Homo sapiens: one gene and its partners. The protein of the gene in region 1 interacts with the protein of each later gene in a pairwise test. Each region holds a gene or a part of one and is shown in the gene's direction. Other genes may lie near its edges. The genes, in order: PSMD9, KLKB1 and CCDC136.

What was found.
Region 2: the proteins of PSMD9 (region 1) and KLKB1 interact in binary tests that used the Homo sapiens proteins (3 or more experiments, as listed by UniProt).
Region 3: the proteins of PSMD9 (region 1) and CCDC136 interact in binary tests that used the Homo sapiens proteins (3 or more experiments, as listed by UniProt).

What each region holds. Positions count from the first base shown.
Region 1 is NC_000012.12:121,891,547-121,898,990, forward strand, and holds part of PSMD9 (26S proteasome non-ATPase regulatory subunit 9), read left to right. Parts: intron 1-3,192; coding exon 3,193-3,295; intron 3,296-7,444. UniProt on the Homo sapiens protein: Acts as a chaperone during the assembly of the 26S proteasome, specifically of the base subcomplex of the PA700/19S regulatory complex (RC).
Region 2 is NC_000004.12:186,237,324-186,244,767, forward strand, and holds part of KLKB1 (plasma kallikrein isoform 1 preproprotein), read left to right. Parts: intron 1-932; coding exon 933-1,042; coding exon of another isoform or gene 1,043-1,075; intron 1,076-1,081; exon of another isoform or gene 1,082-1,722; intron 1,723-1,841; exon of another isoform or gene 1,842-3,171; intron 3,172-7,444. UniProt on the Homo sapiens protein: Participates in the surface-dependent activation of blood coagulation. Activates, in a reciprocal reaction, coagulation factor XII/F12 after binding to negatively charged surfaces.
Region 3 is NC_000007.14:128,801,704-128,809,147, forward strand, and holds part of CCDC136 (coiled-coil domain-containing protein 136), read left to right. Parts: intron 1-2,946; coding exon 2,947-3,058; intron 3,059-3,655; coding exon 3,656-3,821; intron 3,822-4,057; coding exon 4,058-4,198; intron 4,199-4,533; coding exon 4,534-4,692; intron 4,693-4,984; coding exon 4,985-5,155; intron 5,156-5,656; coding exon 5,657-5,842; intron 5,843-6,832; exon of another isoform or gene 6,833-7,061; intron 7,062-7,444. UniProt on the Homo sapiens protein: May play a role in acrosome formation in spermatogenesis and in fertilization.

The sequences.
Region 1 (7,444 bases):
CCAAGATTGCGCCACTGCACTTCAGCCTGGGTGACAGAGCGAGACTCCGTCTCAAGAAAAAAGAAAAAAAAAAAAAAGACTGGGCATGGTGGCTCACGTCTGTAATCCCAGCACTTTGGAAGGCCGAGGTGTGTGGATCGCTTGAGGTCAGGAGTCCGAGACCAGCCTGGCCAACATGGTGAAACCCCGTCTCAACGAAAAATACAAAAATTAGCCAGGTGTGGTGGTACACATCTATAATCCCAGCTACCCGGGAGGCTGATGCAAGAGAATCACTTGAACCTGGGAGGCGGAGGTTGCAGTGAACCAAGACTGCACCACGACACTCCAGCCTGGGTGACAGAGATTCCATCTCAAAAAAAAAAAAAAAAAAAAAAAGAAGTGGACAGCTAAAACTATAAATCTCGTATAATAAAGCATAGGAGTAAATCTTCATGACCTTGGATTAGGCAAAGCCTTTTTAGATATGGCACCAAAAACACAAGCTACAAAAGAAAAAATGATAAGTTGGACTTCAACTTTAAAACTGTGTTTCAAAGGGCATAGTAAAATGAAAAGATAAGCTCCAGAATGGGAGAAAATATTTGCATATCATTTCTCTGATAAGAGGATAGTATCTAGACTATAATAAGAGCTCTTACAACTCAATAATAAAAAGACAGCCAATTAGAAGACAGGGAAAGGATCTGAATAAACATTTCTCCAAAGAAAATATGGTCAATACAAATGGTCAATGGCCAGGCGTGGTGGCTCATGCCTGTAATCCCAGGACTTTGGGAGTCTGAGGCAGGAGGATCACTTGAGGCCAGGGGTTTGAGACTAGCCTGGGCAACACAGTAAGAGCCTATCTTTACAAAAAATTCAAAATTAAAGGCCGGGCATGGTGGCTCATGCCTGTAATCCCAGCACTTTGGGAGGCCGAGGCTGGCAGATCACGAGGTCAGGAGATCGAGACCATCCTGGTTAACACGGTGAAACCCCGTCTCTACTAAAAATACAAAAAAATTAGCCGGGTGTGGTGGCAGACGCCTGTAGTCCCAGCTACTCGGGAGGCTGAGGCAGGAGAAGGGCCTGAACCCAGGAGGCGGAGCTTGCAGTGAGCCAAGATCTCGCCACTGTACTCTAGCCTGGGCAACAGAGCGAGACTCTGTCTTTAAAAAAAAAAAATTAAAAATTAAAAATTAGCCAGGTGTGATGACATGTGCCTGTGGTCCCAGCTACTTAGGAGGCTGAGACAGATCGCTTGAACCCAGGAGTTTAAGGCGGCAGTGAGCTATGAACACACCACTGCACCCGATCCTGGGCAACAGAAGATCTTGTCTCAAACCAATACAAACACAAAAGCCATTACCTTTTACACTTTACATGGGTCAGTTATATGGTATCTGAATTATATCTCAATAAAACTGTTATAAAAACAGAGGGTACTAGAGATAGCAAGTAACTGGGGTGTTGCAGAGACCAGCACCAAATGGACACTTTTGCCTTGACAATTGCAGGATTGTAGAGAATTGGGAGAGGAATATGTATTTTTGATTCAGGGTTATTTAATGCCGTGTGTGTGAGCTGCTAGTGTTATGGATCCCATCCTTTGAGAAGCATTATCCAATGTGATATTGATTCTCAAAGGCTGGTCAACCCTTAACCACTGTGGGAAGGCAGGAGCAGATACAGGTTTTTAGCCCCTGGCGCATTTCTGCAGTGTCACGGCGAGTCCTGTGTTAGGGGAGTGTGGAGAACTATCTCCCTGCGCAGTGGACAGTAGGTTTGGGTGTAACCCGGAGGCTTCCAGAGAGAAAGGGAGCAAAATGAATGGAATCCCTCTTCTCAGTGCCTGTGTACACTGGCAGCTTGTCCCTGGACTGACTAATCCTTACAGCCACTATTTATGACTTCTGCGCGTAGTCGTTTTCTGAGGCCACCTTAACACCACAGAGTTGGTGACTTAAAACAGGAATTTACTTTGTCCCAGCTCTGGAGGCCAGAAGTCTGAAATCAAGGTGTCAGCAGGGTTGGCTCCTTCTGCAGGCTCTGAGAGAGAAGCTCCCAAGCCTTTCTCCTGGCCTCTGGTGACTGCTGGCGGTCCTTGGCCTACAGCTGTGTCACTTGAACCTCTGCCTGCATCTTCATGTGGCCTTCCTCCTGTGTCTGTCCCACACCTACCTCTGCCTTTCTTTTATGAGGACACCAGCCACCAGATGAGCTTATCTCGAGATCCTTAACATAATTACATCTACAAAGACTCTTTTTCAAATAAAGTCATATTTACAGGTTCTGGGGGTTAGCTCGTGGTTATCTGTTTTTGGGGGCCGCTCTTCAACCCACTATGCTGTGTATGCGCGTGGCATGTGCTAAGTACTCTGCAGGTCAGCTCGTTAGTTCTTGCAGCAGGTAGGGAGGGAGGCGAGTGCTCCTATTCCCATTTTATAATTGAGGAAGCTGAGGCTTAGAGAGGAGAAGGTCTCAGCTAAGGATGCCCAGCTTGTACATGGCAGAGTTGAGATTCAAATTAAAGTCTAACCAATTGCAAAGCCCCTCCCCTGAACCATGTGACTGGTTTCACTGCTTTTGTGTACTCTCCTCTGACTCATGTTAAAAAAAAAAAAAGTGTTGTTTTGAATAAAGAATACATTCCCATAGGCAAAATTCAAAACCTACAGAGGGGTATAAAATGGACTGTCTCTCTCCCTGCCCTGTCACCTAGCCACCCAGTTCTTCTCCCCGGAGGCAGCTGGTGCTATCAGTTTCCTTCTTCAGATCTTTTTATTTTCAGAAGAATCAAAGCCCTGCCACAGCTGGGTGCTGTCTGGGCTTTTCACTCCCCTCTAGCTTCCAGGGCCAGCAGCCAGGTGTCAGCCACCTGTGGGAAGGAGGGTGTGAAGGAGTGGAGGAAGAGGCTGGCCTTGGGGATGATGCTCAAAGGAGTCTTTGGTTTTATCGGCACTGTTTTAACTTCAAAAAAGAATGGATTCATGCATTACTTGCGTCGTTAAAAATAAAAAATGAAAAACACAGTGCCCACCCCAGGGTAGTTGTGAGGGCATGAGTAGAGCCCCTGGTGTAAGTGATCAGTATGTGGCAGTTTTCATTACTGTCACCTTTATTATGACTTCAGAGGAGAAGGGTCTGGGGAAAGACATCCTGGGGACATTACACCCATGAGCACCTTTTAACCACGTTTCTTTCCTCCAGCAAAAAGGCATTGGGATGAACGAGCCGCTGGTGGACTGTGAGGGCTACCCCCGGTCAGACGTGGACCTGTACCAAGTCCGCACCGCCAGGCACAACATCATATGTGAGTGGCCCTCTTAGAAGACTTTCCCCACCTTGTGGTGGGAAGGTGTTAAAGGCATACAAATAAAACCAACTATCTGTATTATCTACTGCCTTCTCTTCTGCCTTGATGGGATTGTCTTGTCCCCATCCAAGGACTGAGAACCAAGGGAATGGGCTAGACTCTAAGGTTCTATATTTCTGGTTTCATTTTCTCTCTCTCTCTCTCTCTCTTTTTTTTTTGAGTCAGGGTCTTGCTCTGTCTTCCAGGCTGGAGTGCAGTGGTGCTAACATGACTCACTGCAGTCTCAACCCCCCAGGCTCCAAGTGCTCCTTCTGCCTCAGCCTCCCAAGTAGCTGGGACTATAGGCATGTGTCGCTGTGCCTGGCTAATTTTTTTTAGTAGAGACGAGTCTCACTAAGTGGCCCAGGTGAGTCTTGAACTCCTGGACTCAAGTGGTCCTCCTGCCTTGGCCTTCCAAGGTGCTGATTGTTTTTAATTAAAGAGCTAGCAGAGAGTACAGATTGGATAGTATATTTGTTTTCTGTTTCTGCCATAACAAATGACGTGATTTGTTTTTAATTAAAGAGCTAGCAGAGAGTACAGATTGGATAGTATATTTGTTTCTGTTTCTGCCATAACAAATGACCACAGACTTAGTAGCTGGAGATAAGAAGTCCAGATGGGTCTCACTGGACTAAAATCAAGGTGTTGGCAGGGCTGGCTCCTTCTGGAGGATCTAGGGGAGAACCTGTTCCTGGTCTTTTCTGGTTTCCAAAGGCTGCCCACCGTCCTTGGCTCATGGCTTCGTCCATCTACACAGCCAGCAGTCGCATTTCCCTCCCTCTGATTCTGTCATAACATCTCTTTCTCTCACTCTCCTGCCTCCCTCTTTCACCTATAAAGACCTCTGTGATGACACCAGGCCCACCTGGATAATCCAGGATCATGTCCGAATCTTAAGGTCCTTAATCACATCTGCAGAGCCTCTTTTGCCATGTAAGGTGGCATATTCCCAGCTTCTAGGGGCTAGGATGTGGATGTGTTGGGGGCCATTATCCACTCAGCCATAGGTAGGCAACCGTCTCCACCACAGAGTCCTATTAGCATTTATCCTCCACATTTTTCACTTACTAACTCCTCTTTAATCTGTTTGAATCTTGATTCCATCTGCATCACATCTTATTTATTTATTTATTTTTTGAGACGGAGTCTCGCTCTGTCACCCAGGTTGGAGTGCAGTGGCACGATCTTGGCTCACTGCAACTTCCACCTCCCGAGTGACAGAGCAAGAGACCGTCTCAAAAAAAAAAAAAAAATCTGTTTGAGCAATTCCTTATTGGTCTTTTTTTGAAAAATCTGTTCTCGGCCGGGTGCGGTGGCTCATGCCTGTAATCCCAGCACTTTGGGAAGCCAAGGCGGGCAGATCACCTGAGGTCAGGAGTTTGAGTCTAGCCTGACCAACATGGCAAAATCCTGTCTGTACTAAAAATAGAAAAATTAACTGGATGTGGTGGCACATGCCTGTAATTCCAGCTACTTGGGAGGCTGAGACAGGAGAATCACTTGAACCCAGGAGGCAGAGGTTGCAAAGAGCCGAGATTACACCACTGCACTCCACCCTGGGCGACAGAGCAAACAAAACTCTGTCTCAAAAAAAAGAAAGAAAATCTATTCTCAAAACAGCCCTTTTTAAAGAACAGTTATAGATTTACATAAAAATTGGAAAATAATGGCTGGGTGCGGTGGCTCACGCCTGTAATCCCAGCACACTGGGAGGCCGAGGTGGGCAGATCACCTGAGGTCGGGAGTTCGAGACCAGCCTGACCAACATGGAGAAACCCTGTCTCTACTAAAAATACAAAATTAGCTGGGCATGGTGGCACGAACCTGTAATCCCAGCTACTCAGGAGGTTGAGGCAGGAGAATCACTTGAACCCAGGAGGCGGAGGTTGCCGTGAGCCGAGATTGTGCCATTGCACTCCAGCCTGGGCAACAAGAGTGAAACTCTGTCTCAAAAAAAAAAAAAAAAAGAAAAGAAAAAAAAATTGGAAAATAATGCATAGGTCCTTTGGCTTCTGTATGTAATCTCCCGTGTTGTTAACAGCATATATACACATACATGTGTATATATCTACACATACATGTAAATATATACACACATACATGTGTATGTAAAATATACACATGCGTGTATATATGCAAAATACACATATGAGTGAATGACTCAGGCTGGGTGTAACCAAGATTTCACTTTTCTCTGAAATCCTCTAGAAGGAAAAATGCTGCATAAGCTGGGCACAGAGGCTCATGCCTGTAATCCCAGCACTTTGGGAGGCTGAGGCCTCCCAAATATATACACATGTGTATACACACAGGTTCAAGTGATTCTCCAGCCTTAGCTTCCCAAGTAGCTGGGATTACAGGTGCCCACCATCACACCGGACTAATTTTTTTTTTTTTTTTGAGATGGAATCTTGCTTAGCCACCTAGGCTGGAGTGCAGTGGCATGATCTCGGCTCACTCACTGCACTCACCATCTCCCGGGTTCAAGTGATTCTCCCATCTCAGCCTCCCAAGTAGCTGAGATTACAGGCATCCGCCATCGTGCCCGGCTAATTTTTATATTTTAGTAGAGACAGGGTTTCACCATGTTGGCCAGGCTGGTCTTGAACTCCTGACCTCAGGTGATCCGCCCGCCTCGGCCTCGACAGGCGTGAGCCACCATGCCTGGCCTAATTTTTTAGTAGTATTTTTTTAGTAGAGACGGGATTTCACCATGTTGGCCAGGCTGGTCTCCAACTCCTGACCTCAGGTGATCCGCCCGCCTCGGCCTCGACAGGCGTGAGCCACCATGCCTGGCCTAATTTTTTAGTAGTATTTTTTTAGTAGAGACGGGATTTCACCATGTTGGCCAGGCTGGTCTCGAACTCCTGACCTCAGGTGATCTGCCCGCCTCGGCCTCGCAAAGTGCTGGGATTACAGGCATGAGCCACCGCGCCCAGCTAACAGCTTATGTTAATATGGTACGTTTGTTATAATTGCAAATTTGTTTTTTGAAATACACTGCAGAAACATTTTGTACTGAAAAAAACCCTTTCAACATTTTGATTAGAATTGTAATATGTTGTAAATAGTCGTTCGTTCCATTCCCCAACAGCTGTGTATTGAGCACTTCCCTGTGCCAGGCATTGCAGAGTCTAGGGATGCTGTGGACCTCACTGGGGGAGGGCTTTTCTAGTGAAAGTGACCATGTATTATGTAAGTCTGCCTCCCAAGTGCATGTCTCCACTTGTTCAGATCTGGGTTCTTTTCCCACATCTGCTCCTGTGGGTTGAGAACTTGAATCCCTTCATGACTGAGGGTCTTGCCTTTGCTCCAAAGTGACAGTGGCAGAGGAGGCAGGTCAGGTAGTACCGCAATCCCACTGACAGGCACAAGGTATCAAAATACCAGCTGCTGTGCTGGCGTGGCCTGCAGATTGCCATGGTGGTTCACAACATTTTGAATTAGCTATCTGTACTGAAAAATCAGAGAATTTCACTTCAAAGATCCCAATTTTCAGCTTTTCTGGAAAAATCAAAGATTTTGTAGCATTGGGTCTTCCTCCCAAACCCAGCCAATTGGCAAGAGCCCTGTAGCAGGGGTGCCCTTTGGCCACCTCCCTGTGGACTCCCTCTCCTGGACTGAATGTCTCCAGGATTACTAGGCTTATGCAGCACTTTTTTTTTTTTTTTTTGAGACGAATTCTTGCTTTGTCGCCAGGCTGGAGGGCAGTGGTGCGATCTCGGCTCACTGCAACCTCCACCTCCTGGGTTCAAGTAATTCTCCTGCTTCAGCCTCCCAAGTAGCTGGGATTACAGGCACCCGCCACCACGCCCAGCTAATTTTTGTTTTTGTTTTGTTTTGTTTTGTTTTTGAGACGGAGTCTTGCTCTGTTGCCCAGGCTAGAGTGCAGTGGCGCGATCTCGGCTCACTGCAATCTCCGCCTCCCTGGTTCACGCCAATCTCCTGCCTCAGCCTCCCGAGTAGCTGGGACTACAGGCGCCTGCCATCATGCCCGGCTAATTTTTGTATTTTTAGTAGAGACGGGGTTTCACCGTGTTAGCCAGGATGGTCTCCATCTCCTGACCTCGTGATCCGGCCACCTTGACTTCCCAAAGTTCTGGG
Region 2 (7,444 bases), on another chromosome or scaffold:
CCTGATCTTGTGATCCACCCACCTCAGCCTCCCAAAGCGCTGGGATTACAGGCATGAGCCACTGCGCCTCGCCCTTCATTTTTTAATTAAATAATTCATTTAATTTCATTTGTTTCTCTACTCTTTTCCCCTGGCATGTAATTGTACCGCATCTTCAAAGCCTGACATCCTCTTCCCCTACTTCTCCAAAGCTGATTCTTGCAGGTCTTTCCTCAAATACCGTCCCCTCCAAAAGCCCATTTCTGAGCATTCTCTTTTAAGTCACACTCAGCTCTGTTTATTTCATTCATAGAGCTAATCACAATTTGATATTAACTTGTGATTTTTTTCCTTATTTTTAAATCTTATTTTTATTTGCATAGATGTATGGGGTACAAGTGTAATTTTGTTACTTTGATGTATTTTACAGTGGTAAAGTCTGGGCTTTTGGTATATCCATCACTGGAGTCATGTACATTGTACCCACTAAGCTATTTTTCAACGCCCGCCCCCTTCCCACCTCTCTGTCACCTTCCCAGTCTCTACTGTCTATCGCTCCATGCTCTACTCAATTTTGGTGTCATTTTTTCCTGAAGCAAAATTTTGGTGTCATTTTTTCTGAAGTCATTTTCTGAAGTCTGTGTCATTTTTCGCTTTCCTGAAGCGAATTTTGGTGTCATTTTTCCTGAAGTTCCGTTTGCCCCACACATAGGCCTTGCTTATAGAATGAGGGTTTAGTGTCACGGAGTCTCCTGCCTCATTCTCACCCTAACTTTTCCTTTACCCCTTTGCGAGGGGAAGGATGTCCATTAGGTTAATAATGCAGACCCCTAACCCACTCATTATCAGGGTCATTGTTTTTCCACTGTGCATTTTAATACTAACTGTTACCTGCACTGCTCCCTGCCCCTCAAAGTGCAGAAAGCAAAGTAACCTCTTTTCTTCCCATTCAGGAACAATTGCCTATTAAAGTACAGTCCCGGAGGAACACCTACCGCTATAAAGGTGCTGAGTAACGTGGAATCTGGATTCTCACTGAAGCCCTGTGCCCTTTCAGAAATTGGTAATTGTAGGACTACTTCACTTTGTGATTGTGGTAGGTGGAATAGGAGCCCCCAGAGACGTCCCTGTGCTGAGCCCTGGGACCTGTGCGTGTGTTCCCATAGCTGGCAAAAGCGTTTCTGTCAATGGCATGCAGTTACGGGCTTCGAGATGGGGAGTTTACTCTGGATTTTCTGAATGGGCCCAATGTACTCACAGGGTTGAGTGCTCACAAGGCTCATAAGAAAAAGAGAGAGGCGGAAGGCTCAGAGCCAGAGAGAGAGGTTTGAAGGTATTACACTGCTGGCTTTGAAGATGAAGGTCCGTGAGCCAAGGAATGCAGGCGGCCTCTAGAAGTTGAAAAGGGCGAGGAAAGAGTTTCCCTGTGGAGCGTCCTGGAGGAAGAAGCCCTGCTGATGTCTTGATTTTAGCCCAGTAAGACCCAATCTCTAGAACAGTAAGATAATTAATTTGTGTTGTTTTTAACCACTAAGTTTGTGGTTATGCCCCTAGAGCAGCAGTTATAGGAAACTAGTACAGTGATACTGTTAGAGTTATAGGACAGTGATATAGGACAGTGATACTGTTATAGTTATAGGAAACTAGTACAGTGATACTGTTAGAGTTATAGGACAGTGATATAGGACAGTGATATTGTTATAGTTATAGGAAACTAGTACAGTGATACTGTTAGAGTTATAGGTACAGTGATATTGTTATAGTTATAGGAAACTAGTACAGTGATACTGTTACAGGTACAGTGATATAGGACAGTGATACTGTTATAGGAAACTAGTACAGTGATACTGTTAGAGTTATAGGTACAGTGACATAGGACAGTGATACTGTTATAGTTATAGGAAACTAGTACAGTGATACTGTTAGAGTTATAGGTAGAGTGATATAGGACAGTGATACTGTTATAGTTATAGAAAACTAGTACAGTGATACTGTTATAGTTATAGGACAGTGATATAGGACAGTGATATTGTTATAGTTATAGGAAACTAGTACAGTGATACTGTTAGAGTTATAGGTACAGTGATATAGGACAGTGATATTGTTATAGTTATAGGAAACTAGTACAGTGATACTGTTAGAGTTATAGGTACAGTGATATTGTTATAGTTATAGGAAACTAGTACAGTGATACTGTTATAGGTACAGTGATATAGGACAGTGATACTGTTATAGGAAACTAGTACAGTGATACTGTTAGAGTTATAGGTACAGTGACATAGGACAGTGATACTGTTATAGTTATAGGAAACTAGTACAGTGATACTGTTAGAGTTATAGGTACAGTGATATAGGACAGTGATACTGTTATAGTTATAGGAAACTAGTACAGTGATACTGTTATAGTTATAGGACAGTGATATTGTTATAGTTATAGGAAACTAGTACAGTGATACTGTTAGAGTTATAGGTACAGTGATATAGGACAGTGATATTGTTATAGTTATAGGAAACTAGTACAGTGATACTGTTATAGTTATAGGACAGTGATATAGGACAGTGATATTGTTATAGTTATAGGAAACTAGTACGGTGATACTGTTATAGTTATAGGTACAGTGATATTGTTATAGTTATAGGAAACTAGTACAGTGATACTGTTAGAGTTATAGGTACAGTGATATAGGACAGTGATATTGTTATAGTTATAGGAAACTAGTACAGTGATACTGTTATAGTTGTAGGACAGTGATATTGTTATAGTTATAGGAAACTAGTACAGTGATACTGTTAGAGTTATAGGTACAGTGATATAGGACAGTGATACTGTTATAGTTATAGGACAGTGATATTCTTATAGTTACCGTGGTATAGTTATAGTTAAAGGTACAGTGATATTGTTATAGTTATAGGACAGTGATATTGTTATAGTTATAGGACAGTGATGTAGTTACAGTGATATAGGTACAGTGATATTGTTATAGTTATAGGACAGTGATATAGTTATAGGACAGTGATATTGTTACAGTTATAGGTACAGTGACGTTGTAATAGTTATAGGACAGTGATATTGTTATAGTTATAGGTACAGTGATGTTGTAGCAAAACTGTAAGGTCATTCCTTGGTTGTGTCCCTATCTAGTGAAATGACTCTACCAGGGGTAGGGAAATAAAACTCTGTCGTTTCACACATAAAGGTAATTTCAATGGAATTATCCAGAAAATTGCCATGACATTCCACCTCATTTAGCATGTCAGGATGTTAATGACAAGATGTTACTAAAAGCAAATCCCTTACGGCCAGTTTTCCGCAGTACTGGGTGCTGGCTCTGTGCCTGGCCCTGTATTGGGTGCTGGGCTAGGATTTCCCTGTGGAAGATTGGGAAGGTTGGTTACAAGGTGGCTATTTTCCTGTCTCCTCTTTGCGACAGCACACCTTCTCCATGGTGTGTGCCAGGTTCACGTGTACTGGTGATTTAATTTTAACGTTCATATTATTTTTTTCTGGGAGAGTTTTTGAAGGCTGCCAGGAGGCAGGACTCGATGCAAACATGCTCCATTCTGTACCCAGCCCTGTTGCTGGAAGGATTTGCTGCACTTACCCAGGGAACAGGCAAGCTCGTGCTGTGGCTCTGGGCTGTCACAGCTGCTGTCCACACCTGGGAGAGCACCCTGGATGGCTCATCTGTGTACTTGCTTTCTTGTTAAATTGCAGTGAGTTCACATGTGATTTAATCGGATCAAATGGCCTTTACAGACTGATAAAAATATGGCTGTTTCAGGTGGTGTTTTGAGCTGCTAAGGGCGTGGCTTTTCACTGAGTACGTGGTCCCCGTTCCTCAGGGAACACCCAGTAGCCACATGCCTCCTAAACCTAGAGTAGGGCTGTCTCCTGGCCTAACTGCCCAAATGAGATTCATAAGTTAGGGATGATCTGTAGTTATCACTACAGATTTGTCCTTGGTTTCACCAAGGATTTTCCTAATTTTACAAACAAAACCCCTAAGGCTCCTGGAAGGAGGGTAGAAGTGAAGGTGCTCCGGGGGCAACACAGCTGATGAGCTGAACCAGAACTCGACCCTTGGGTCACACACATTTCACAGTGCTCACTCCACCTTTTGTTTTTTTAATGGATTTAATGGTGTTTTAAAGCCTCCTGCCTCTCAACACATATGAATTCATTATATTTACAGATTTCCTTCTCTTGTGGTCCATCTTCCTGCATAGATCTTGAGAGATGTCAGGCTAACCACGTTTCCTCAGTTAATTTAACAAAACCATTTGCAACTCTGACATGGAAAATTCCTACCATGTGACTTATTAATTTATCAATTGAGATGGTACACATATTTTCAAGCCAAAAGGAGGAAAACATAAATTGGAAAAAAAAGGTTTTTTTATTTTTATCACCTCTGGGGAAGAAAGTCTGATAAACGAAGCTGGTTGATAAAATTGCAATTAGGGGAAGCAACATCATGGTTTCTGTTCGGAGGCTAACCAGATGGCATACTTGAAATAGAGAATGTCCTAGAAATCAACTGGTTGCTTGGCCAAAATATCTATAAATAGTGCCCAACATATTAGATAGGAAAAGCAAAGTAAAAACAATTTTAACAGGTTAGGACATTGGGCTGAAGTATTGCATATATTTAATGTCATGTGCGTCCGTGTGAAGAGACCACTAAACAGGCTTTGTGTGAGCAAGAAAGCTTTTTAATCACCTGGGTGCAGGCAGGCTGAGTCCGAAAAGAGAGTCAGTGAAGGGAGATGGGGTGGGGACGTTTTATAGGATTTGGGTAGGTAGTGGAAAATTACAGTCAAAGGGGGTTGTTCTCTGGCGGGCAGCGGTGGGGGGTCACAAGGTGCTCAGTGGGGGAGCTTCTGAGCCAGGAGAAGGAATTTCACAAGGTAACGTCATCAGTTAAGGCAGGAACCGGCCATTTTCACTTCTTTTGTCTTTCTTCAGTTACTTCAGGTCATCTAGATGTATACGTGCAGGCCTGGGCCCAGAGGCCTGACATTCCTGTCTTCTTATATTAATAAGAAAAAGAAAACGAAATAGTGGTAAAGTGTTGGGGTGGCGAAAGTTTTTGGGGGTGGTATGGAGAGATAATGGGCGATGTTTCTCAGGGCTGCTTCGAGCGGGATTAGGGGCGGCGTGGGAACCTACAGTGGGAGAGATGAAGCTGAAGGAATATTTTATGGTAAGGGGTGATATTGTGGGGTTGTTAGAAGCAGCATTTGTCATATAGAATGATTGGTGATGGCCTGGATATGGTTTTGTGTGAAATGAGAAACTAAATGGAAGACACAAGGTCTGAATAAGAGAAGGAGAAAAACAGGTGTTAAAGGACTAAGAATTGGGAGGACCCAGGACATCTAATTAGAGAGTGCCTAAGGGGGTTCAGTGTAATTACTTGCTTGGTTGGTGAGTTTTTGGGCTCTATCCTTGACAGAGTCCTCCTTTTTAAGTTGGAGGCTGAGCTTGGTGAGGTGTGTTTTTAAAAGACCATTAGTCTGTTCTACCTTTCCTGAAGATTGAGGATGGTGAGGGGTATGAAGGTTTTACTGAATACCAAGAGCCTGAGAAACTGCTTGGGTGATTTGACTAATAAAGGCCGGTCTGTTATCGGATTGTATAGAGATGGAAAGGCCAAACTGAGGAATTATGTCTGACAGAAGGGAAGAAATGACCACGGTGGCCTTCTCAGACCCTGTGGGAAAGGCCTCTACCCATCCAGTGAAAGTGTCTACCCAGACCAAGAGGTATTTTAGTTTCCTGACTCCGGGTATGTGAGTAAAGTCAATCTGCCAGTCCTGGGCGGGGGCAAATCCCCGAGCTTGATGTGTAGGGAAGGGAGGGGGCCTGAGCAATCCCTGAGGAGGAGTGGAGTAGCAGATGGAACACTGAGCAGTTATTTTTTGAGGATAGATTTTTACGACGGAAAGGAAAAGTGAGGTTTTAAGAGGTGGGTTAGTGGCTTGTAACTTACATGGAAGAGTTTATGAAATGATGACAGAATAGAATGGGCCTGTGAGGCTGGAGGAGATATTTTCCTTGGTCCAAGAATTATTTGCCTTGTGTGGGAAGAGATTGATAGGTGGAAGTTTCAATGGGGGAGTAGATGGGAGTGACAGATGAGGAAGAAAAAAACTGGCTGTGAGGGATAGAAGTTGGAATGCTCGCTGCTTTTTTAGCTACCTTATCAGCATAGGCATTGTCCTGAGCAGTGGGATCTGATGCCTTTTGGTGGCCCTTGCAGTGAATGGCTTCAGCTTCCTTTGGAAGTAAAGTGGCCTTGAGAGGAGTTTTTATTAAAGAGGCATTAAGATGGAGAACCCTTGTGTAGTGAGGAAACCTCCTTCAGCCCATATAACCGCATGGTGGTGCAGAATATGGAAGGCATATTTAGAGTCAGTATAAATATTGACACGTAGTCCCTTTGCAAGAGTGAGGGCCTGAGTTAAGGCAATGAGTTCAGCTTGCTGAGAGGTAGTGGAGCGGGGCAGAGCAGTAGCCTCAGTGATAGATGTGGAAGATACTACAGCATAGCCTGCCTTTGCTGGTGAGTGGTGATTAGGCCTGGTGGAACTGCCATCAATAAACCAAGTGTGATCAGGGTAAGGAACAGGAAAGAAGGAAATATGGGGAAATGGAGTGGATGTCAGGTGGATCAGAGAGATACAGTCATGGGGGTGGGGGCCAGCCTAAAACAGTAAGGTCAAGTTGTTTGAACAGAAAGGCTACAGGGCGTGGTCCTGGCTCTTGTGTAAGAATTTTGACTGCGCAGCCCTGCACTTCGGCTGTGTGTAATGAAAAGGGTTGGGATGAGTTAGGGAGAGCTAGTGTGGGAGCAGTTTCTAGGGCTGTTTTTAAGGAATGGCAAGAGGAGTGGCTAAAGGATTTAGGATCTTTGGGGTCAGCTAGCTTTGCTTTTGTGAGTTTATATAATGGTTTAGTCAGGATGGTAAAACTTAGTATCCAAAGGCGGAAGTACTTAACCATACCTAGGAAGAAAAGGAGTTGTTTTGTAGAAGGGGTTGGGGTTTGGGAGATGAGCCAGACACAATCAGCAGGGAGAGCACATGTGTTTTCATGAAGAATTATGCCGAGATAGGTAATGGATGAGGAAGAAATTTGGGCTTGACTGAAGTAATGGGGGCTGTCCTCGAAGCCTTGTGGCAGTACAGCCCAAGTAAGTTGCTGAGGCTGACGGGTGTCAGGGTCAGTCCAAGTGAAAGCGAAGAGAGGCTGGGATGAAGGGTGCAAAGGAATAGTAAAGAAAGCATGTTTGAGATCCAGAACAGAATAATGGGTTGTGGAGGGAGGTATTGAGGATAGGAGAGTATATGGCTTTGGTACCATGGGGTGAATAGGCAAGACAATTTGGTTAATGAGGCACAGATCCTGAACTAACCTGTAAGGCTTGTCCGGTTTTTGGACAGGTAAAATGGGGGAATTGTA
Region 3 (7,444 bases), on another chromosome or scaffold:
GAGGATCACTCGAGCCCAGGCATTCATGAGCAGCCTGGGCAATGAAGTGAGACCCTATCTCTTTCTAAAAGAAAAATTTAAATAAAAATTTTAAAAAGACAGTAAAGGGGAAAAACCTACCCAGATGTTACATAACCAGTCCATGGTGGTGTAAGAAATAGCACCATGGAGAGGTACCCTGGGAATTCTTCAGAGAGTCATTGGGTCTTTGTTGATTTGACTATGGGAAAACCCTTCCTGGGAAAATTTCCAGCTCTAGGATGGGCAAAGAGGGACCTGTCACCTTGGGAAACTCTTCCTGCTGCCCTGGCATCATGGTGCTTTGCCTGGAATGCTTTATAGGGGGCCTCTGGCCCTGCTTCCAGGTGCAGGGATGCTAATTCTTAGGTTCCATTAGCTCTCCTCAAAATAGAAGCTTTGGGGGGCAACAAATCGGAACAAAAGACAGCTAGAGAAGAAAAGTTATTCTGAGTGATACATGAGGTACCCAAAAGCCTAGAGCCCTGCTTTCAGACAGTGAGTCTCCCAGCTAGTTGCTAGGATTCATGACATCAGAGAGTTTGCCTTTATTCTGAGGCTAGATTTATAATCTGAGTATAATGGAGGTCCTATATTTGGCCAGGTCAAGCAGAGGCAATCAACAAGGAATCAAAGAACTGCAAGTTTTTCCAGCTGTATCAAGCCTCTCAGAAGAGCCTTTAGATTAAATGGTGCTGGGAGAAGAAGGTTGGCACAGTGGGAAGGCTTGGGCTGGAGTCAAACAGACCTGAGTTCAGTATCTCAGCTCCACTAATTAGCAGGATGAACGTAGGAGGTCTGGTTATGGTCTTTCTCTGAGCCTGTTTCTATATCCAGGATATGAAATCAAAATTGGTTAATAAAACCTTATAGCTAGATGGGATCCTGAAACAGGAAAAGGACCTTAGGGAAAATGTAGAGAAATCCAAGTAAACTATGGAGTTTAGTTAATAGTAATGTATCAATATTTGATTCCTTAGTCATGACAGGTATATCATGGTAATGTAAGATGTTGACAATTAGGGAAATTGGGTGAGAACCCTCCCAGGAAACTCCGTACTACCTTTGCAACTTTTTTGTAAATCTAAAACTATTCTAAAATTCAAAGTTTATTTAAAGAAGAAAAAAACCTTACAGAGCTATTTTGGGAATTAAATGAAATGTGAAGCATGTTGAAATCACTTGCACACTTACCAAATCTGAGGCTGAAACTATCAAGTCTAATGCTTAGCGCATGGTTAGTTTTCATTAAAGATTAGTTTCCTTCCTCCCTTATATGGTAATCTGCAGTATTCTAAGGAATTCTGATTAGAATTAAGAGGAAACATTAGAAGTTACTTTTAGGGTGTTGAATCTTCCAGCAGGTAAGATAGGTCTTGTGTTCTAATTAGAGCAAGTTAGTGTTCTTTAAATATCAGTAGAATTAATGTTCTAAGAGACATAATTCTTTTTCAATTTTTTGCTAGTGGACACAGAGTCTTGCTCTGTTACCCAGGCTGGTCTCGAACTCCTGGGCTCTAATGATCCTTCTACCTTGGCCTTCCAAAATGTTGGGATCACAGGTGTAAACCACTGCACCCGGCCAACATAATTCTTAGTCATGAAGCAACAAAACAGATACAGGTGTTTGTATCATCACAGCCTTAAAAGTGGGCATGGTGACTCATGCCTGTACTCCCACCACTTTGGGAGGCCGAGGCAGGTGGATCACTTGAGCCCAGGAATTTGAAACCAGCCTGGGCAATGTGGCGGAACCCCATCTTTACAAAAAAATTCAAAAATTAGCCAGGCTTGGTGGTGTGTGCCTGTAGTCACAGGTACTTGGGAGGCCGAGGTGGGAGGATCACCTGAGTCCAGGGAGGTCAAGGATGCAGTGAGCCATGACTGTGCCACTGCACTCTGGTCTGGATGGCAGAGTAAGACTATCTCAAAACAAAACAAAACCAAAAAGGAAAAAGTATAGGTATAGGTGACTGGTGCTTAGAGACATGTGCTGGAGTATTTCAACCGGATCTCTTCTAATGCTTGAGGATGATATGTGAGTCTGGTTAGGATGGGCCTGTCAGCAGATAAAAGGCCATTAGAAAGAATTCCTTTTTTTTTTTTTTTTTGAGACAGAGTCTCACTCTGTCACCCAGGCTGGAGTGCAGTGGCACAGTCTTGGCTCACTGTAACCTCTGCCTCCAGGGTTTAAGCAATTCTCCTACTTCAACCTCCTGAGTAGCTGGGACTACAGGCATGCACCGCCACGCCTGGTTACTTTTTGTATTTTTAGTAGAGACAGGGGTTTTGCCATATTGGCCAGGCTGGTCTCAAACTCCTGACCTCAAGTGATCTGCCCACCTCGGCCTCCCAAAGTGTTGGGATTACAGGCTTGAGCCACTACACCTGGCAAGAATTCTTTACCACATCCAGACCAATGTATTTGGTGTGGGAATAAAGAACATAAAAGGAAACTCAGAATGCCTGAAAGGCAGGTACTGGCAGTCACATCTGACAGTTCACATCTCTCAGCTTTTTGTACTAAAAGCATAATTGGAAGGTAATCATAAACAGTTGAATGGAAATTTTACATACAGTAAACTTTTGAAAGTTTTTACATACAGTAAAAATTTGAAAGTTAATTAAACTTTCAAAAATTGCTAAAAGTTCAAGAGTCTGCTTCGGTTGAGGCTTTGAAGATGAGCACACAGGGTAAATCTTCAGGGCAGATGAGAAGAAGGACAGCTATTGGGAAGAGGAGAAAGACTCACTGCACTGTGGAATTTCCTGGGCCCTGTCTTCTAAGCCTCTACCTTTTTTCTGTCTTTAGAAAAAGAGAAGCTCTTTAACCTTCTGCTCTCAGGTTTCAAGACAGGAAAACTGGGGGCTGGTCATCAGTGCTTTCCTTTCCTCCCGGTCTCATCTCTCTCTGCCTGTCCTCTGCAGAAGAACTGCAGGAGCTGCGGGAACGCTACCATTTCCTGAATGAGGAATACCGGGCCCTGCAGGAGAGCAACAGCAGCCTCACGGGGCAGCTTGCAGATCTGGAGAGTGAGAGGTACAGCTGTCTCTGGAGAGTGAGAGGTCATGGGGTTCCACAGGACTCTGCCTTACCTTGGGCTTTCCCTGAAGGCAGATGCCAGGGCAGTGAGCGTTCCTTTGCTCCTGGAGACCCAGTCCTTTCCATGGTTTCCAAAGGATACAGATACCACCTACAAGCAGACATGGGGATCCGACCCAATTATCTCAAGACTAGAGGGAGTGAGTTCTGAAGTTTACTTCTGCTCTAGGCACTGGGTTCTGGTTTGCTCTGCCCTAAAGTGGATCAGAAGAGATTCTTTTATTGTCTGCATAGACTTGTTTCAGTCTAATGGCAGGCACAATGCTTCCAGATTGGAGTGGGCTTGACTAGGCCTAGCCTCAAAACTAACTGGACTGGCACTCTAAGGGTCTCCCAGAGCCAAACACACCTTTGCAGATTGAGGGGCTGGAGACTTTCTGTAGTCTTTTAAGCATGTTTATCTGAGCGGTGAGTCACAATAGAAGGCCCCTTACTATCTTTGGCCTAAAATGAAGGTATCAGGACAAAGCCTGCATGGCTGGTGATGCCAGGCAGAACTCCCTTCAAGCATAGCTCTGCGGTTCTGAATTGCAGGACACAGAGAGCAACAGAGAGATGGCTGCAGTCCCAAACACTGAGTATGACGTCAGCAGAGTCTCAGACTTCAGAAATGGATTTCTTAGAGCCTGATCCTGAAATGCAGTTGTTACGGCAGCAGCTACGGGATGCTGAAGAGCAGATGCATGGCATGAAGAACAAGGTAGGGCACAGAGGGTGGGGAAGGCAGGCACATTTCTTGTCTTTCTTTCACCTTCTCCCAGCCTGTGGTAGAAACATCTCCATAGGCATCCACTGTGGAGGGAGATAGTACTCTGGGGTCTCACTTGCCTGATGTAAATCTTCCAGTCAAAGAGCGCCATGCTTTCCCCAAGCTTGTTCTTGGAGCATATGTGGTATCTGTAGTAAACAAGCCTCCCTGTTCCATTTCCCACATAGTGTCAGGAATTGTGTTGTGAGTTGGAAGAGCTACAGCATCATCGCCAGGTCAGTGAGGAGGAGCAGAGGCGGCTGCAGAGGGAGCTCAAGTGTGCTCAGAATGAGGTGCTTCGGTTTCAGACCTCCCACAGTGTCACCCAGGTAAACACTGCCCGGGGAGGCATCTGGGGTGGGGGCAGAAGGGCCTCATGGAGGGGCTGCTTCAACCGGGGTGGGCACAGTGAGTATGGCTGTGCTCTGCTGACTCTTGCCCTGCAACTGGGCACAGTCTGCTGGAAACCAACTGTAGAAGTCATATAGCACTGCATTCTAGAAATGGTGGTCATTACTGAGTGTCCATCTCACAGAAGAAACCAAACCCTAGACCTGTGGGAGCTCCTCAAGATGTCTGCATCTGAAAAGGAACCCAACTGATCCGTAGAAAGACCTGCTGTTTCTTGAGAGTAACTGTTCTACTCACATCCTCCCTACCACAGAATGAGGAGCTGAAGTCCAGACTCTGTACCCTGCAGAAAAAATATGATACTAGCCAGGATGAGCAGAACGAGCTCTTGAAGATGCAGCTGCAACTTCAGACTGAGCTCCGGCAGCTCAAAGTCATGAAATCCACACTTGTAGAAAACCAGAGTGAGAAGGTAACAGCAACCAGAGGTGAGGGGACAACTTAGGTGCTAAGGGCATCCTTCTGAGGTTTTGGGGAAGGTGGATAAGAGTAGTGAGTTAAAAATAATTCCAGCAACCACATAGGCAGCACCACAGGTAAAGAACTCCAGCCCTGCTCGAGTACTACATTAGATATGAGGACATTAGGAAGTGAAGGGCAGGAAGAAGCAAATCTTAGACTGTTGGTGTCTTCAAGTGACTCACACAGAAGAGTGAGTGGGTTAAGGAGCCCAAAGGCACTGCCCAAAGCCCCCTCTACCATAGGAGTTACTGTGCCGGCTGCAGAAGCTGCACCTCCAGCACCAGAACGTCACATGTGAGAAGGAAAAGCTGCTGGAACGGCAGCAGCAGCTGCAGGAGGAGCTGCAGTGCCATGAGGCAGAGCTGCAGCACCTCAGGGATACGGTGGCCTCCTTCAAAGAGAGCAATGAGAAGGTAAAAGAAGCTCCTGGTGAGGGAGGATGTAGCCAGGCATCATCTTGTGTGAGGGTGAGAGCACAGAGGACGAGAGGGAATGGTAGGAGTGTGGAGGAGCTGGCAGTGAGGGGGCCAAAGAGGTGCTTAGGAGAAAGGTGACCTCGGGGAGTCACAAGGCTCTCAGCTTCCTTTGATTTTAAATCAGAAAAGCAGCATATAAAAAGGAAGTCCCTTTGCCTCCCCACCTCCCAAAAAAGGAAGCCCCAGAAGGTCTGTGTTTCTTTTTAAATTATTTTTATATTTATTTATTTATTTATTTAACTGGAAAGGCTGCACTGGGAAGGTCTGTGTTTCAAGCCTGTCAGGGACGGGTCCATCTTGGGTATCTATCCCTGGCTGGGATGAAATTGGGGCTGAGAAGGACAAGGGAAGATGGGTCCCCTTAGTCCCCGCCTGGGAGGAGAGAGTCCAGCAGCAGGAGTGCCTGGGATGATGGCCAGGCCTGCCTCCCCTGCCCAGGACACAGAGACGCACGCTCAGCTTCAGGAGATGAAGCAGCTGTACCAGGCCAGCAAGGACGAGCTGGAGCGGCAGAAGCACATGTATGACCAGCTGGAGCAGGACCTCCTGCTCTGCCAGCTGGAGCTGAAAGAGCTCAAGGCCTCCCACCCCATTCCGGAGGACAAAGGAAAGTGTGCTAATAAGGTAATTGTCGTTCAGAGAGGTGACAGCTCCTGGGCACTTGCTCCAGAGAGAAGAGGTACAGAGGCAAAAAGTGAAGGCACCCAACCCAAGGGCTTGATGGCCTTCCTAGGCAGGAAGCAGAGGCAGGGCCACATGCTGCTAACTTCAAAATTGTTTGCCCTGACCTTGACTTTGAGCCAGAGCCACAGCTTAGTAGGATCAATACCTTTGGATCCCAGTCTGAACCCCTGAAAGTTTTACACATGATTCCATGTATGTAGACATTTATACAATGGTATTAGAACTGTAGTGATATCTAGTCATTCTTGGAGGGGAACATATACATGGGCCCATTACACAAATATTATTGTTGGAACTAGAGAAAGGGGCCAGTTTTCTGGGTCAGATTGCAAATGGTCTTATAAAGGGGTACGGTCTTGTGCCCAGAGTGCTGATTGGGCAAGAGAAGGACCTAGGCTCTTCTAGGATTTATTCTGTGACTTTGAAGTAGTTAAATTCTTTTTTTATGAAATGGAGTCTCACTCTGTCGCCCAGGCTGGAGTGTGCAGTGACACGATCTCAGCTCACTGCAGCCTCCGCCTCCTGGGTTCAAGCAATTCTCCTATCTCAGCCTCCCAAGTAGCTGGGACTACAGGCACATGCCATTGTGCCTGGCTAATTTTTGTATTTTTAGTTGAGACCGGGTTTCGCCATGTTGGTCAGGCTGGTCTCGAACTCCTGACCTCAGGTGATCCACCTGCCTCGGCCTCCCAAGGTGCTGGGATTACAGGCATGAGCCGCCATGCCCTGCCAGTAATTAAATTGTGGAAGGTTGAATTGTGCCCTCTTTAAATGGAAGAGAATACTACTCTTAACTCACTTCCTTTTAGCAGTAAATCCTGGTAGTGATAAATAAGGCCTTATTCATTTTTTTTCTTTTCCATAGTGTATAAAATGCAAGCCGTTATCATTTATCCTGTTGAGCACTTTCAGCTCCTGATTACTGATGGGAAATGGAAAGGTGTTGAAGCATGTTGGAGAAGAGGCCCAAGAGTCTCTAACGATGGTGGAGTTGGTCACATTCTGCCAGAAAACTCAGTAGTTCCTGTCCCTGGGGAAAGGCCTTCAGGAGACGGAGGACTGGGAAGGTTATTTGGGCCACCTCAGCAGTCTCTTTGCCTTTCTATATCCAGGCTCACGTTTCCTCCTTTTTCCACTGCTACTCAATTTAGGAGCCCAGGTGATCTGTGACTTGCTCGTCACCTCTTCCCCTAATGGGAAAAATGATGGGAAAGGAGAAGCATGCTGGCAGACAGCACCTGCTTTTTCTCTAGCCGTAAAACAGCATTGAGATCTGTCTGATATTAGAAGATCTGGGTTTTTGGAAATGGGATGATTTAGTCTTCTCAACCCAAATTTACCAATAGCGCATACTTTCTAAAGATTTAAAGAGAGAATTAGGAAAGCAAAAATGGGAAAAATTAGGGTGAAATTAAGTCCTTATTTGTAAGGAGTGTAGTTGCATTAAAAAACAACTGGGGTTAATGAGAATAACAGGAGCTAAGAGTTCCCAACAGGGTGGGAATATGGTGTATAAAGGAAAGGGCCGGAGAAGAGGAAGGG